Regions from separate parts of the Homo sapiens genome. Here region 2 is linked to region 1. The links come from fine-mapping of genetic effects on gene expression. A gene starts in region 1. The other region holds a variant in brackets. All regions are shown on one strand. Distances are from middle to middle.

What was found. PIP is the estimated chance that this variant, and not a neighbour inherited with it, causes the effect.
Region 2: its variant is fine-mapped to the expression of LY86-AS1 in whole blood (INTERVAL, PIP above 0.99).

The regions. Positions count from the first base shown.
Region 1 is chr6:6,619,267-6,627,266 of GRCh38, reverse strand. It overlaps LY86-AS1 (LY86 antisense RNA 1), which reads left to right and starts at 4,441. Exons shown (of 8, transcript NR_026970.1): 1 at 4,441-4,635. LY86 (lymphocyte antigen 86) reads right to left here. Exons shown (of 5, transcript NM_004271.4): 2 at 2,255-2,341; 3 at 846-974.
Region 2 is chr6:6,650,927-6,660,834 of GRCh38, reverse strand. LY86 (lymphocyte antigen 86) reads right to left here. Exons shown (of 5, transcript NM_004271.4): 5 at 5,853-6,291. The coding sequence ends at 6,208. Among named protein-coding and RNA genes, the nearest start is that of LY86-AS1, 33 kb to the right of the region's middle. RefSeq lists a silencer at 6,788-6,978. The variant T/C (reference allele first, on the strand shown) is at 5,175.

The sequences.
Region 1 (8,000 bases):
CTCTTGAATGAGAAAATAGATAAAGGAGTATTTCTGAGATGTGGGGTGAGGGGTGTATTGGGGGTATGCCCTGCCTTGGCCAGTGGGAGTAGGAAGGAGACCCTGGGAGGGGAGAGCAGCTGGGAGAGAACCACTCCTGGGGAAGGACAGTCAGAGAATAGAGCCAGGTTTTAACCACACCGCGGAAGCATCTCAGGGCCTTGGTGAAGCTGTGGGTAAAGACAAGGAGGAAAGGAGAGGTGGGGACAGGTGGGGGAAGGTGACCTGCCCTTTCTTCAAGGCTGTATGGCAGGCGGTAGAGGGTTGGTGCACTGCCGAAAAGGTAGCTAATATAATGGGGTTTCCGTTTCTCTACTTCGAGTGTAACTCCCGGATGCCCTGCTAGTCAATGACCCACGTGGGAAAGGTGGTGACATATCATAAGCTTCATTTTTTTTTTTCGTTTTTGAAGTCCATTACTATATTAAGGACATCCTGCCACTAAGGAAGTTGTGGAGGGAAAACCTGGGAGCACTCTGAACCTCAATGGATTTTTGGAACCTCTTGGCTCTTTCTGCTGCCAGCCCTTTTTTATAAGATGCTGCTACTCACAGTAACAATGTTCTGTTTTAAAGCATCTCATACGTGTCATTTCATTTTGATATTCACAACAGCCCTGTAAGGTAGGCCTATGGAATGGGCCTTATTGTTATTTTTCTGCAACACATGCTGATAAGTGAGGATAAGCTCGTCCAAAGGCGAGGGGCAGAGACAGAGCTCTGGTCTGGGCGTCCTGGCCTCAGATGCAAGTTCGAGTTTATCTCTCTGCAGGCCCCTGCCAGCAGTGAGCAAGACAGATGGCTTACCTCCTTTCCTTCTTCCACAGAAAGAAAACTTGGGCAGAGCCGCCTCACAGATGGGATAGGAGAAATTCAAAACAGATGAGCCTTGAGACATGAGAGCTAGGTCAAGAAAAAGCTCTTTGATGTCCTCTCCTGGAGGAAAGAGAAGAACAGCTTTACTCTTACTGCGTGTTTCACTGTGTATCAGAGGCATTCACAGTATACAGCAGCATGAGCTAAAGAACCTTTTGTTTCCATTAATCTTCTCTGTGTGGGGAACAGTTTTCTTCTTTCCTTGGTAAAACAGCATTTAGGCAATGCTACAGGGGATTATGATGGGGCCCTGCGTATGAAAGGTGGCTGTTTCTCAAAATACCTGCTTGGAACAAGGTAGTTAATCAGCTGAGCTCCCCACCCTGATGCTATGGCCTTTTAATGTGATGTCTGCAGGTCTGGCTTCTGGAATTTCTCAGTTGCATAGTATCATTTGTTCCCCATGATGGCGGTGGGGTGTGGTCACGCCTACATACACCTGCTGCTGTTGCCAGGGAGGTATTGCAGCACAGGTGCACAGGAAGCTGCAGCGGGTTCCATGGTGGTGGCTTCCAATTCTCTCTTTTTCTCCATTCCTCCCTTTTATGTTCCACCCACTCTTCTATTTCTCTTTTCTCGCTTTTTCTCTCCCCATAACATTTCTCCAGCTGCTGCTAGAGTCCAGATACTGTGTAAGATTCTAGAAATACAAAGATGCGTGAGAGTTCTTGATTTCTATGAATGTTCCCTCCATTTCTCTGGAATGATTCCACATGCTAAGTTTATTAAACCTCTCTACTTTGATTTTGATATAACTGCTTTGGAAAAGGAGGTCGTCTAGTAGCTATAGAAAATATATTGACCAACTATAATTGCATGATCATATGAAAATTAAACAATCAGAAAGTGCTCTAGCTTACTGATTGGGGTAGGAGAGAAAATATTACATCTCCTCCTTGCCGATGTCAAAGTTTAAGAATTTGTATTAACTATTTGGGATACAAAATAACACAAATGACAAACCGTACCGCTGGTAGTAGATTTATTTGTTGCTGAGATAACTAAAAAAGTTAGGAGATCCTGAGTAGACATTAATACTTAATCTCAAAATATTTTCCTTTTTTTTTGCTGGGTATACTGATTCCAGGTGCTTATATCATCCAAATGAGTGCCTAGAGTCTTTTTAATACAAAAGTACAGCTTTAAGTGAGAGTTCTACCCTACCTGAATATAACCCAGAGAAAGATTTGAAAATGAAGATATAAATAGAGTTAATTCCAGAGAGTGGTGAGGGAACAGTAGTTTAGCCAGTCATTACAGTTAACATAAGTCATTGGGTGTGTGGAGTTGGAAGAGGCTGTGCAATGTTTTATTTCATGCTAATCATTTTTTTTACTTACTCAGAATAATTCCAAATCTAATGTTGATATTTGATTTTAATTGCTTGGAACACTTTTCAACAGAAAAGCCAAAATCTTGTAATGGATCTACGAAGAAGAAAACAATAGATTAGTTGCGAGTACATCGTATATTTTGCAAACATATTCAAAATTTGCAACAATATTGTTTTCACATGAATTGCTACATTTATTCAAAAGCATATTGCCCAACACTTTTTAAAATAAGCCCATGATATTTTCATCAGCTCCCCCCCGTGTCTTCAAAGCCAACATCATGTTCACTCTGACAACAGGGGGCCTCCATCCATGGAATAAACAGGGTCTTGCTAGTTGGGTTATATCTTTACTTGTTAATGTTTTTATCATAGAAAATGTTTATCATTGCCTGAATTTTTTTAGTTCCTGAACGTTTGGCCTTAAAATTGCTCATGGATTGCATAGCGGATTTAATAAAGTATCTATTATTATTATCAAAACAGAGGGAGATACAAAAGTTAGGAGAGCTTGAGTAGACATTAATACTTAGGCTCAAAATATTTTCTAAAAAGATTTTCAAAGTTAAGACCTGCCTTTCTAATTCCATTTTATCCCATCCCATCCCAACCCATCCCATCCCATCCCATCCCATCCCATCCCATTTAATGTAATGCTTCCTCCTCCAAATATTCCACTATGTACAAGGTATTGTGTTAGATATGATAGGGGCTATAAAGATAATATTTTCTGCATACAACTTCTGCTCATTCACAAAGCTCCAATGGCTTATCTATGCCTCAGAATACAGTCCAGAAATGAGCGACTGGCTCCAACTTCCATCCTCCACATCACAAATCCATCCTTCATTCCTTGAGGCCAGAGTGGCAACATACACACCAGCACATTCCCACCATGTTTGATTTGCTTGTGTGCTTTCTCCCATTTGCAATGGTCTTAGTCTTTTTGGCCATTATCTAAATCCTCAGGTCTTGCTCATTCCCATCTTCTTTGTGAAGGCTTCCCTGCCCCCATATATTCTCTTGCTTCCTTGAACTCTTAAAACAGCGATGTCTGGCATTCTTGGTAAAGTGTACAAACATGTATCACTCTGCACTTTGCTACGTGGCTTATCCTGCAACACTGAATCTAAACATGAGATTTCTTAAAGGCCAGAGCTGGTTTCTTGTTTTGTTTTGTTTGTTTTGCTTTCCATTTCCTTTTCCTTTATGTTTCCCACTGGACTGGAGATAGGAGAGCTATTTTTAACAGAGGGTTTACCTTGTACTAATAGCTGAGCCTTGTACTTTAGGAGTGTTTTCCATTTAATTCTCTAGGTTCCCCAACACCTAGCAGAGAGCCTCACAGCCTCACAGTCTGATCCACAGTAAGCACTCCATAAATGTACATGTTGAGTGAATGGATGGGCCATATATTGGGGCTGTTTCTCAGCTCCAAATCCAGCCCTCTTTCCTCTGCTTTTTCACTGGGCTCTCGGTAATCATGTTTCTCCTTCACTGTCTGCCAGTCAAGGTAGCAGAGAGATGGAGGCTGGAGTCGAAGAAGGGACTTGCTCCTTCGTGAGTACTTGCTGGGAGTGTCACTGGTGATGGCCCATCATGTTGGCAGTGGCAGTTGGTTCCAGTTTCCAGCTCTCTTGCACCTTCCCAGCTTCAGCTGAGACTCAGCTCTGCGGGGCCCTAAGCTACTGCAGTAACAGCACATCAGAAGCTGTCACCCTTTCCTTAGCAGCCTGTGTCTCAGCTCCACAGGGTCCTTCTGTCAAGCATCCAGTTTCTAATCCCCACAACCTCTGCCTTTTGCTCTCCCAGCCTTCAGGGGTCCTTTCTTTGCTCTTTTGGTTCTCCAGCAACTGGTTCTCTAACCAACTTCCTATATCAAATTCTCTCTGTTAAAATAACTGATATGGTCTTCGTTTTCCTGACAGCACCCAGACCTGCAGAATAAACAATAATCTGAAGAGATAGGTATGATTTACCTCATTTTACTGTTACGAAAATATAGACTCGGAGATGTTGTATTAACTTATCTAGATCCCCACACTAGAAAGTGTCAGAGTCAAGATTCAAAGCCAGAGTTAAAACCAAACAAACAAACAAATTGCTCCCGGGTATTGTGCAGTGAAACTCACAAAGTAGAACCTCAACTACATATGTTACTTATTTGATTTGTAAGATTGCCCAGAATATTTTGTGTGCAGGCATATGGCATCTGGTAGTTCTGTTTCATAACTGATTTCCATTTCAGCTTAGCTATGAGCTCACATTTGCCAATGTAGTGTTCCAGACAGTTTTATCATCCACATTGCTGACCTGGAAGATGCATCATTGTCTATGATATCTGCAATGGAAATGATCACTAGGCAATTTCAGCCTTGCAAATCTAACGTAAGTACACTTTTGTTTGATCAAAACCCCTTTGGTCCAGTCACTAATTTTCCTAAGGGTGGGAAAGAGCCCTTTTGTCTTATGCTCATTGGACTCCTTCCTAAGTATCTCTGTGCTGTCCCAGGGTTTCTTTCAGCCTGGAAAATAGGAGCAGGGGGTTGGAGACGATAGTTCCTGCTACATCCTTGGCACTCAGTATTGAAAAAGACAGAAGCCAATGAACAGATGCTTAGGAAGGTGAATCCTCAAAATTGTGGATAAATTTAAGTTGCTATCCAGGCAAAATAAAAGAGGCTAAGTACGTATTGTGTTGTTGATTAGCAGCTATAGAATTACACTGTATGTTTATCAATATTTTAAAGGTATAGATAGAAAGAATCAACTAAGGGCGGGAGAAGGAAATAAAGCATTTTCTTGGTACTAGAAACACATTGTTGTTAGGAAAATAATCTCAATAAAGAACAAAGTCACAAAGAAAGCTGTAGGCTGCATCTCTCTGAGGATATGTATATAAAAGCAGAAAGACAGATTGCTTAAAAAGCGCTTAAGGGTTTGGTGAGCTTTCCTAGCAGTTATTTCAAATTTATATGCAAGAGTGATATCTTTGAGTGTAAACATGCAGTTTGTGGTCCTCTTGGGGAAAGTGACATTGGTTCTTCCTCCTCCCCCAACCCCACCCTCTCAAACTCATATCCTTCTCTGTATTTATTTGCATTTCCACTCAGGCACTTTGCATGTTTTATATTACATTATATTTGTTTGTATACCTCTGTCATTCCTCCACTAGATACTGCAAAGCTAACTCCCCAGTGCCAGGGCTATACATAATGTCTTAATATCATACTAAATCTCCAGTGATTGTTTGCTGGATGAATAGTAGTGGTTATTTGTAGTAAATTTGCCGAGAACCTTAAAGCAGGATTCCTCAATGTCATCACTATTGACATTTTGTTTTGGATATCCTTTGTGGTGGGTGCTGTTCTGCACATCATAGGATGTCTAGAAGCATCCCTGGTCTCTACCCACCAGATGCCAGTAGCATCCCCATACCCTCTAGTTGTGAAACCAAAAATATCTCTAGACCTTACCAAAGTATCCATGAGGGATAAACTCACCCCTGGTGGCGATCACTGCTTTAAATAATCACTGTATCAATTTCCAGGCTTTACCTATCCTGCAAATGCCTCAGAATCACCTACCAATATAAAAGATGGTAGGTTGCATTTTAAAGTAGTTCTCCTTCTACAGTATGAACAGTGACGGACAGGCTGAGAGCGGAGAGACTTTCCCTTGGACCCTTGCCTCAGTAACTTTTAATACATGTAAGACGGATCATCTGACTTTGGACTTTCTGAAGCAATAACATCGGAAAGTTAATCAGAGTTGGCGTTCTGGGAATTCAAGGGCAGAGATAAGTGTTTCCTCCAGATACTTCACTGTATTTCAGCAAATGACCTGAGGAAAGAAGTCAAAACTTCATCACGAAATAGAAGACTGTTCATTTTCAATATTTCTTCCTTGGCCTCTATGTGGCACTCCCTTGCTGTCTGTCCTGTTGACTTCTATGGCTTCCACCCAAGGGAGGACAGCATTATAGTGGGTGAATCCAGCACACCCCAAACTGCCCCTGCTCCCCTCTCCCCCGGGCATGTGGGCCCTCGAAGGCAGGCTTCTCCAAACCAGCAGCATGTGAACCCTGCCAGAAGTGAGGAAGAGCTCTAGGAGAGCAGCCAGCAGCATCTGTTTTGCATACAAAGGGCAGCAACAATCAAATCTCTTCTAGAAAAGTTTTCTTGGACATTCATGGAGTAAAATAGAGTTGGATAAACAAGCCAGGTTTAGAGTGAGCAGCGTTTGAACAAATATCAGCTCCAAAGGTATTGTTGTGCCTTCCACCCTCCATTAGTGGCCTAGGCTGGGCTAGACCTGGGCAGCTGTCGAGGGGAGGACAACCTTGTCAGAATGGCTTCTATTAACAGCTAGCAGTGGGCTTTCAACTGGAATCAGTAGGAAGAAGACAAAATCCAATGACACAGACTCTGGAAGTGAAATTCCTCAGCAGAGGATGGTGGGGGCCCGGGTACACTCCACTGGACCAATCCTTGATTTGACTTCAGGCAGCCGGAAAGCTTGGATGTATGTCCCTAAGTCCTGGAGGCCATGGATGTAGCTCCGCCCCCTGTGGCCTCTGCGTTGCTGGCTGGTTAGTTTGAGGCATAGAGGAGGGCCCAACTCTTACACAGCTAGTCCCATTTTCCATATTCTAGCTCTACTTGAGGTTTTTCTTTAGCTTTATATTTTGAAATAATTATATTTTCACAGGAAGTTGCAAAAAGATACAGAGAGGTCTCATATGTCTTTCCCCATCATCCCCCATGGTAAGATCTTACATGGAGGACAATACCAAAACTGGGACATTGACACTGATACAATCCACAAAGTTTATTCAGATGTCACCAGTTTAACAATCATTCGTGTGTGTGTGTGTACAAGCGCATGTATGTGCCTGTTTTTTACATTTCTATTGCTTGGGTTTAAAATGGTTAGAAATTGGTCTTCCTCCTCTCAGGGGAAGGTAGAATTCTTACAGCAGAGTCGCTGTGAAAAGGAGCTGACCCCCCTCCAATCTCACTTCCACCAGCCTTCCACATACTCATGGCCAAGTGCAACCCCAAGATTGCAATGTCCTTCCTGCTTTGTAAAGGTAGTCTTTCTCCCCCTCCCTTTCTCCTAGCTCTCCTCTTCTCTCTTCCTGTCTCTCATTCTTTCCCTCTCTCCCTGTCTCCCTCCCTTTCTCTCTCTCTGTTTCTCTTTTTCTTCTCATACCAGTACTTAGATCTGGCTACCATCCTGAGATTAAGAACACTGACTTTTCTTCAAACACATCTTAACATTCATGGCTCATTCCCTGTGGCCCACATTACTCTAAGAGCTGGTATTGCTTCCTGCATGTGCTTTTGGCAGAACACAGGCTGGCCCCAGGAGGATGTTAGGTATTACAAGCATGCTTCCAATAGAGGCACGACCTGCGGAGGAGAAAGGGCGTAGAGGGCCCAGGAGACCTTACCAGCCACAGGCAGCTTAGCTGCACTGGCAAGACTGCCTCTAGCAAACAGTTTATGGAGGGAAGGAAAAATTGGGTTAACAGAATGTGAATAAAGCTGGTCTGCTTCTGACTGCTCAATAAAACAGTACTGGATGGTTGTTTAATAATGGGGGGGTGTGTTAGGGTTCTCTAGAGAAACAGAACCACTTGGCACTGGAGACAGAGTGTCTGAGTGTGGTTGAACTGCTAGTCCCGGGCCAAATAGTAGCAGATATTCCTCTGCATCTTTCAGAATTCTTTCCCAAATGTAACAAAATAA
Region 2 (9,908 bases), 33 kb before region 1:
GCTATGCTGTGCCCTACCCTCCTGCCCTTATGCCACCTTGCCACCGGGACCCCATGAAATGCTGCAGGTGCCCTGGTATTTCTCCAAATCCCTTATAAAGTTAGCTCCTAGCTGTTGCTTCTCTCTGCAGGAGGCTCTGCCACAAAACCAAGGGGCTAGGGAGAGAGCTGGGACCCCAGGCCATTCCTCCCACTCTGCCTCCGCCCCCAGGAGCTTGTCCACAACATGTAGGCACCAGGACCTCCAGTGTCCCAGCCAACCTTCAAGGGCCAGCATGTTCCCTCCTTCTACCGTGAAGCCAAGCCACGTGTCCTCCCCGCCTCAAAGCCCCCCACAGTGCTTTGTTCTTGTCTTGTGCTGCTTACCATGGTTTCTCCATCACAGGAGATTTTTGGTACTCTTCTTCTTCCCTTTTCCTAAAAGATAAGCTGAGTTTGAATTGGGATTATACTATATATTATTTATTTTTTATATTTGATGTATTGTGCTTAATACAATGCTCAGCAAACCGTAGGTGCTGACTAAAGATTTACGAAGGGAAAGAAGAAAACAGTGAAAAAGCCAGATTATGCTTATGGCACATTCACCCAGGTGGGTTTGACAGTGAGTGACCAAAAGCTTTTGTGGAAGAGCATGAACAAATCATGAAACTGACTAGTATTCATGATCCCTTTTTGTTCTGTGCTGTCATCATTGAGTTAATGTAACTGTCATTAGCCTACCTTTGTTTTTAGCTCATTTGCTGCTTGAGTTAACACATTCTGCAAGCCTGCAACTAAAACCATGAAGTGTTTCTTTATTATATGGTGTCTTTCCAAACAGCCAAGCAACATTAGGTAGAAAGAGCCTGGATTTGGAGTGAGACAGAATTGAATCCTGGCTCACTGATGGAGCTCACAAGCCTGGGGAACCTTAGGCCAGTTCCTCAATTTCTCTAAACCCAGACTTCCTCTTCTATCACGTGGACCATTGTGTTACGCACCCACAGGCTGTTCTGGAGATGAAGTATTGAGATGCAGGCCGAGCACAATGCTGGCGCAGAGAGCCTGCACAAATCGTTGTTAGCTTTTACACAATTATTATTATCATGGTGGTTGTTCTGCCTTCTCAGATGTTATCTTTCTGCACTCACATATATTAATCTTTGTAGTTTATGTGGAAACCTTATTGCATCCCCTTGATTATGTCAATGATGTTCTCTGGCTCTTTCTTGAATTTTCTTCTACCACTTCTGAGTGAAGAAAAGGAAAGAAATGATATGATAAAGTCTTCGGTGGCAGGGATATTTTCTGTTTTTCCACCCTTGGGTGGGTTTCAGGGAAATCCAGAAAAATACCAGCTGGCAGAAGGTATCATTGTTTTTGGCTAAAGGAACATTGATACATACCCTTTTCCACAGAAGTGAGGAGACCAAACCACTGGAGGAAAGGAGGTGGTTTTGTGTCACATGTGAAAAGAAAGCTGGGCGCAAGGGGAGAAGAATATTTCAGGCCAGAGCATTTGAATGCAGCTGAAGGCTTCCGTTCCACACTAAGTAACTGAAGACATTTACAAACTAGATGAAAATAACTCTTTTATAAGCCCTATAGGACCCCTGCTTGCCTGATAAAATGATTGGAAAATTAGGTAGACTAACTTGTTTTGCTGATTGAGAAAAATACGGCCAATTCAAACCTGCAGTTGAACTGTTGAGATAATAAACTCCGCCATTCTAACGAGTCTGGGTTGTCATCAGGATGTGGCCCTTTCTGTTCTCGTGCTAGCTATTTTGGATTATCTTTCCTGAAGGCAGACGTAATTGTTACATTTGCAGATGTCACATTTAGTTATGCAGGCATTGGGTGTGTGTCTTTGTGTGCAGGAAACAAGTTTAATTAAAAAAATACACGTATTTTCTTTTTTTTTTTTTTTTTTGAGACAGAGTCTTGCTCTGTCACCCAGGCTGGAGTGCAATGGCATGATCTCCGCTCACTGCAACCTCTGCCTGCCTCCCGGGTTCAAGTGATTCCCCTGCCTCAGCCCCCTGAGTAGCTGGGATTACAGGCATGTGCCACCACGCCAGGCTGATTTTTGTATTTTTAGTAGAGACGGGGTTTTACCACGTTGGCCAGGCTGGTCTCGAACTCCTGACCTCAAGTGATCCGCCCACCTCGGCCTCCCAAAGTGCTGGGATTACAGGAGTGAACCACCACACCTGGCCCACATTTTCTTTCATAGGCCCTTTTGGCCTGGTTATATTGTTTCTGTTTGGGGGCCAGAAAGGTGTATCCAAATGTTTTCCTTAAATTCTTTTCAGAGTTCATGGCCCAGGGAACATGCCCCCATGCCAGGTCTAATAAAACTAGCTACACTTAGAAGAAATCAAGATGCCAAGGGACCATCTCAGGACCCAGAAGGGAATGTGGGCTTATGGGTGAGGGCTGGGCTTCTAGGATTGTTTGCTCTGATGATGTAGGAGGATGGGAGAGGTAAATTAGGAAAAGAGGCTTTAGCACTGCAAGTGAACACCCACCTTAACATAATAATGACTTATTTTTATTGAGTGACGTGCCAGGCCCTATTCTCAGCATTTTACATGCATTTTCTCATTAATTCTCACACTGTCTCTACAAGATAGGTACTATTATTATGGTCAGCACCTACAGATGAGGAAACTGGGGCTTAGACAATAAAAGTCACTTGCCCAGTGAACAGCTAGGAGAGAATTAGAACTTAAAACTGGCCTAATTCGAGACATGATCTGGACATGTCCTTTGGCCTAGTTTGAAACATGCCCTTCCTCTCCCTTTACCCCTTGGCAACTTCCCCAGTTTCCACTTAAGGATATGTGTGGTTCCAGTGGGAATAACTCTGATCCAGGTCTAGGGGTGGGGCATGTGACATAGGCTAAGCCAATCAGGGTAGGGTCAAAGTGATTGGTCAGGATGTTACTGAGCCAGCAATGGGCTCACTGCCTAATGTGCATTGTGGCCAATCCCACTGCACTGGCTTTTAAGAAAAGAAAAGGTTTACTGCAAGTCTACCAGCAAGGAGACAGGAGGAAACACTCCAACCTGTCTCTGCAAGTTGGAGTTTAGGACAGGTTTTATAAGCATGGGGTCATGAGGCATGATCTGATTGGATTTTGCAATGAGGTGATGCTGGGAGGCATAATCTGATTGGATCTTGCAATGAGGTGATGCTGGGAGGCATGATCTGATTGGATCTTGCAATGAGGTGATGCTGGGAGGCATGATCTGATTGGATCTTGCAATGAGGTGATGCTGGGAGGCATGATCTGATTGGATCCCGTCATGGGGTGATGCTGGAAACTGATATGATTGGATCCTGGATCCTGACATGCCGTGTTCACTTCTTAATTAAGTTCCCACTCCTCAGTCTTGCACTGAGGTCCCCCTGTGGTCGCATACTTGGTTCATCTGGGCATGCTCGGGTTACATAACCTTCAACCTGGAGTCCACGGCAACCGAAAAACAACTCACAACTTTATCATATAAGAGTTGAGCCAGATTGGTCTGCTGTGGTTACAAGGAGAGGTCATGTGACCCAAGCCATTCTAATCAGAATGAGTAACAGGGTTTTGGGATAAAGGTCTCTTTTGCCTTCTGTACTGTGGACAGTGTGGATGTGAGGTCTCCAGCTACTGAAATGATTTGCTATTGTGGGACAGACTGTCTGAGGGTAAAGGCAATATTCCAGGAGACCCGAGGTGGAAGAACTGTGGAGAAATGGAGGTGAAGAGCCGATGATGAATGAACCTCAGCAGCAAACGCTGGCTGACACCTAAACCACCCTGGGACTCAGTAGTCATGGGAGACAACCTAGTCCCCTATGCATAAGCCAGATTCAATTGAGTTCTCTGTTCCTCATAGCCAAAACGTTCTAAGAGATGCGATCACACTGTCCTGAGGGGCTTTATCAGCATTCTGCCTAGACTCTAGCCTGACAAAGCTTCCCTTGGGCACTGGAATGTTCCTCAAAAATATTTTTTAAAACGTTCTATACGTAACGATGGAAATTGCCCTCAAAATATAAAGAAGGGCTGGTGGGCACTCCAATGTCTGAAGCTGGCTGATTTTCATAATAATTCCTTAATTGTGGCAGCACTGCATCATCCTGAACCAAGCTGTTTTTTTTTTTTTTTTCTTCAGAAGAGTTTATTGAGGACACATTTTTGGAGTTGTTGATAGTGATTTTTGAAACAGTAGCAATTCTCTTTACAGGAGAAGTCAATTTAGTTTGATAGATTGTCTGGGCACTTTGACCCCACCCCAGCCAGTAACCACACAATGGCTAGCCTGAGAGGGCTCGGCTTGGGGTCACCCACCTCCCCTGACAACCCTGCTTCCTGGGCTGGCCCTTTCAAAGTCATCTTAGTTACTACATCCTGCCAGAGTGTTAAATAATGACAGACTCTAGCGTTTCTCCTAGCAGGGCTGTTCGTATTCCAAGAGGAGACTCCTGAACATTGAAATATGTTTTCAACTTGCTGGAATAAAACTAATGGTGAAATTTAAGGCCCATGACAGGACACTAAGAAAAGACATATTCTGGGACAAAGAAACATTTTTTTTTCTCTCAAATCATGTCCTTAGTGAAACGGCTGTGTACTTGTATATTCAGCTATGACTAGGATAGTCTCCATATATGGAAATTCCAGTTTAACACAAACCTATAGCATCTGAAACTTTCTCTCTCCCTCCCTCTCTCTCTCACGCACACGCACCCACACAGTCAATTTAAAGAAGAGGGCAAAGGGATTGGGAAGGGACTGGCTGAGTTCCACCTGTGTCTTTGGAAGGCTGTGACAGCTGTCTTGTACTGTTAGAACATGTGCGTACACAGAGTCTAGCCAGGGACTTTACTACTTGTGGTGATGGTTACTGAAAAGGGAGAGAGGTGAATGTCTCAAGCTAGAGGGAATGGCCAGGGGCAGGAATCATTTGCTATTCTTGTGCGTAACACCGTCACCCCCATGTACGTTCAGAGGTTTGCTCCTGAGCCTAGTATGACCACGCACGTCTTTTCCCTCGAGCATTATGGGCCTAGGCAAGGACGCTGCTGCAATTTTGCCTGCTCATAACCCAGAAAACCTCAGATGCTGGTTTTAAAGTTTGACAGGCATTTTTGACCTGCTATTCTAGGTGGTTTACTGATGTATAAACAGTGATTAA[T/C]AGCAACTACTGTTTTTTAAACTATGGAATTTTTTTCTCTTTTAATCTCTAATATAGTGGCATTTTTATGAATGATAGTGTCAACTCACCCACCTTACTCCAGCCCCTTAGCAGGAGCAAGAGGGCCAGCAGGGACACTGGAAGGACAGGGGCGTCGGATGGTGAAGGGGCTATGCAGCCCACCATGCGATCAGTGCATCCCAGGAGAGAAGACGGGGCCGCAGAAATGGCTCTGGAAGTAGCATGGGCAACATGCTCATTTACGGAGAGCATCGTAGAAGACAACTTAAGAACACAGCACCTGATACACATTAAGTGTTCAGGAGTTATTCCTTGCATTCATTAATGAATGCAGTAATGAACGCCAGCATATGCTGAGGTCAAGTGTAATCATGCTTTGAGGGATGAAGGTGAAATGAATGTTTGGATAAGCGAGAGTATGATGTCCCTATTCGTGAGGTTGCATCAGCTTCTCGGCCCTCATGGTCCAAGGGTGGGGGCCTGCCCAGGAGAAGCAATGGCACATTTTCCCAGTGTTCTAATTTTAGCCAGGCTGTCACCCTCCTGAATTTCTTGGAACTGCTTATGCTGCACCAGCATCCGGCACTGTATCTGGAGGAAATGACTTTTTAACTACAGCATTGTAGTAAGATTCTTTGAACAAACCACAATGAACAATGGTGGCCAGCTTTCTTTATTCTTGGTAACTGTGAGGAAGCACTCCTAAAAAGTTGAAAAGCAGGTGAGTCTGGTGGGAGGCGACCAATTAGAGAAAAAGGATGGACCCTCAAGACTGCTTAAGGACTGCCAAGAGGCTCCTTAGAAACAGATACATTCGGGGACTTCATTACATCTGTGGAGTCTGGGGATGTCTGGTCCTGGGACTAAAATTAGCAGCTGCACTCTTTGGGGGCGCTTCTTTGTAGAGCCTCTCTCTGTCATCAGCTGCTTCTCCTCCCACAGTAGGTTCAGTCAGAGGAGCTTGGAGGTCCCACGAGATGCAGCTGGCTGTGATTTTTGCTACAGGCCACAGTCAGGAGCACATGATAGTAGCATTGGCACAGGCCACGGTGGACCGTTTTTCAGTGTACAGTTCCAGCAAAACCTGGTATTCTCCCTGCAAGGGGCACAGGTCAAGTATTAGACGTGTGACCCACAGTACAATTAACCATTTAACAAATATTTACAGAGAAACTTTTATGTGCTGGGTGCTGTTCTGGACATTGTGGATAACGTAGAACAAGACAAGCCAACCCCTGCCCTGTGGAGCTGACAGCATCTCTGGGAGAGACAGACCACCCTTATGATATGTGACTATGTATGGTGTGTCAGGTGCTCATGTCATGGAGAAAACTCATGCAGGAAGGGAGTGGATGGAAGCACTGGATGGGTCAAGGCAAGTGCTGGTCTGCAATTTTGAGCAGGGTGGTGAAAGGAGGCCCTGCTGAGACGACGACATTTAGGCAAAGACCTGAAGCAGATGCAAGAAGGTGCAGTGCTGCTATGGGCTGGGGCCCCCACCTTAGAGGGGCAGAAGGAGGCCAGTGGGGCTGCAGGGAGTGGGGGGATGGGGGGGGTGAGGTAAGGGCAACACAGGAGGCCAGACTCTTAGGGCCTCAAAGGCCATGGTGGGGACATCAGCTTCCACTCTGAAAGGGACTCTGGTCAGGAGAGGGTGGCCTGCCCTGGCGCCTGTGTCGGTAAGATCCCTCTGGCTGCCTCACTGAAAAGCCCAGATGGGAGGCGATTGCAGGAATCCAGGTGAGAGATGAAGATGACTTGGAGTAGAGGTGGAGGTGGGGGAAGGCTTTGGGTGCCAGAGAGATTTTGAAAGAACAGCCAATAGGATCCGCTGAGGAAACGCAAGTGGGTGGGAGAGAAAGAAATGGGTTAAAGGTGACTCCAAGGCTCCTGGCCTGAGCAACTGGAAGGAGAAAGGTTTGTATGCTCAGACAGAGAAGACCCCGGGGAGCACAGTTCACCAGCACAAAACCAAAATGCACCATCACAGAAAGAATGGCTGCCTTTGGGGATCCTTGCTGGCAGCAACACTGTAAGGAGGTCTCCCTTCCTTTGCAGTCAGCTTGGCAGAAGCCACCTGGCAGCCAGGTCCTATGAGGACTGTAGAAGAGCCATTCTGGTTTTGTTTGCTGCCAGCACCCCAGTCCTGCACCCCAGCAGCCACGGAGCGGTGATGTGTTTGTAGACACGAATCTGGAGAGGAAAATGCTCTGGGGTGGTTGGAGGGTCGCAAGCGGAGCAGAGGGACTGTGGCAGAGGAGGCCAGGAGACTGCTGGCACATCTTTGAACTGCCTGTCACCCAAAGGAGGAAAGAGTTTAATCTGTATAAAGCAAGAGGGAAGGAGTAGGTGAGACCACCGGAGAGAAGCTGCATGAAAGGTGGCTTTTGTTAGAAGGGAGCAACTTTCTAGCAATGAGCAGAGCTTCCAAAGAGAGTGGAGTCCCCAACACTGAAATTGTATTCAAGAGAACCAGGCTGTGCTCTGGATGGTGCCTTGGGTGTGATTCCATGATTCTAGACGCTCCCATGAGTCACACTCCTCAAATATTGAGCAGCTGTAATTTTAGAAATAGTGTTAGGAATATAACCAAAGCAGTCCAAATGTTAGAGAATTAATTATGAGTAAAGACCGGCTCAAATTTATATCTCGTTGTGTTTCATCGTTCTCTTCCTCCTCATGTACTTTTCTTTAAAATCTCTATGTGCATTTAGACACACACCTACAAATGTATTGAACAACACAAGAATTTTTCATTACTACATTATGAACCTAAGAGGAGCTGTTGTATTTGAAGGAAGGGGTTCTAGATTATGAATTACAGATATCACAGACTCTGGTATAAGAGATAAGAATATTTAGGCAAGCGTGCCAGGCTGGAGGCAGATGGAGGTGTGTGCTGGGAGGCCAGGAGGCCAGGGTAGGGAAGGACTGAGTGCAGCGTTTCTGCTGTTGAGGAGGGCACAGAGTTTGTAAGTTAGGAATTTGTAGGTGCACCTTTGGCAATACATGGGTCAGGCTGTGCCTACAAGTTGTTGTCCACATGCTTCGGGAGCCCAAAGGATCCCCTAAATTTTCATTCAGAAAGCAGGAGGCATAGACAGAGGACAGCAGGTAGGGCTTCAATCCGGGCCAAGGGGTTGGATGAGTTCAGAGGGAAATAATACCAAGACCCTGGAGAATGATCGCTGAGTGGGAGCGTTTTTGGCCACATGGGAACTGCCATTAGCCCAGAGCCCATCTCTGGAGGATTTAGCTGGAGGAGGGGATATGGGGTACGTCTTTTACAACCAAAAGTCTTTGAACTGTGTCTGTTCCATATTAAGAAAGCAAAGCCTCCGTGCATTGCGGGCCAGCCACGGCTGACCTGCAGCCGGTGTAGGGAGCCCATTTTGGGATTAAGGCCTCCAGCTCTCTCTGCTGTACATGCGATGCCCTCACACTGGGCAATATTTGCTTGAGTACCATCAGCGGTTGAAGAACTTACGTTCTGCACTTCCTTCATGCACTGTAGGTGATTAAAATAAAGCTTTTTACTTATCTGGTCAACCTTTTTCCTTTTTTTTTTTTTTTTTTTTTTTTTTGAGATGGAGTCTTCCTCTGTTGCACAGGCTGGAGTGCAGTGGTGTGATCTCGGCTCACTGCAACCTCCGCCTCCTGGGGTCAAGCGATTCTCATGCCTCAGCCTCCCGAGTGGCTGCGATTACAGGCGTGCACCACCATGACTGGTTAATTTTTGTATTTTTAGTAGAGATGGGGTTTCACCATGTTAGCCAGGCTGGTCTTGAACTTCCAACCTCAAGTGATCTGTCTGCCTCGGCCTCCGAAAGTGCTGGGGTTACAGGCATGAGGCACTGTGCCTGGCCTCTCAACTTACTTTCAAAGGGGTTTTCTGACTTTAAGAAGTTCTTTTCCCCTCTATCTTATAACAGTTGCTGAGTAACTGGTTTAAAAAGAAGCCAACAATGCAAAAGTGAAAGTCAATTGTTAGTAAATTTTAAGTCAGCCTCTAGTTGGGAGGAGGGTCAGAAGAACAATGGGGAAAGAAAAACAATTCAAATAGCAAAGATTTAAAGAAAAATGGAACTCTCTGGGAGAGTTTAGGGCCCTCATACTAGAAGTGAAGACAGGTGTAGTTTTTCTTTCTTGCAAAACTTTTGTATTTTACTGAAAGGCCTGAGGAGGAAACTAGAGATTTCCAGAGGGAGAGGGCTGGAGACTTCCCAGCTGCAAGAGCAATGATAGTGGGAATCTGAGATGGTAGCAAGATGGCACTCTGACATAGGAACACAGAGGCTGGGAAAGAAAGGAAACAAACCCAGAGGTGAAACTAAGTTAGAGATTCTTTATGGAGAAAGAGACCTTTTTCTTCAGCCAAATACAGGTTTTGGAGAACTGAAAGGATGAGGTTGTAAACAAAACTATTTAAAGTGATTACATTTTTGTAATTGCACCCCCATGCTTATTGCAGCACTATTCACTACAGCAAAGACATGGAATCAACCTAAGTGTCTATGTATGGATGAATGGATAAAGAAGATGTGGTATATATACACAATGGAATACTATATGGCCATAAAAAAGAATAAAATCTTGTCATTTGTGGCAACATGGATGGAACTGGGGGTCATTATCTTAAGTGAAATAAGCCAGGCACAAATACAAATATTGTTTATTCTCAATTATCTGTGGGAGCTAAAAAACATGATCACA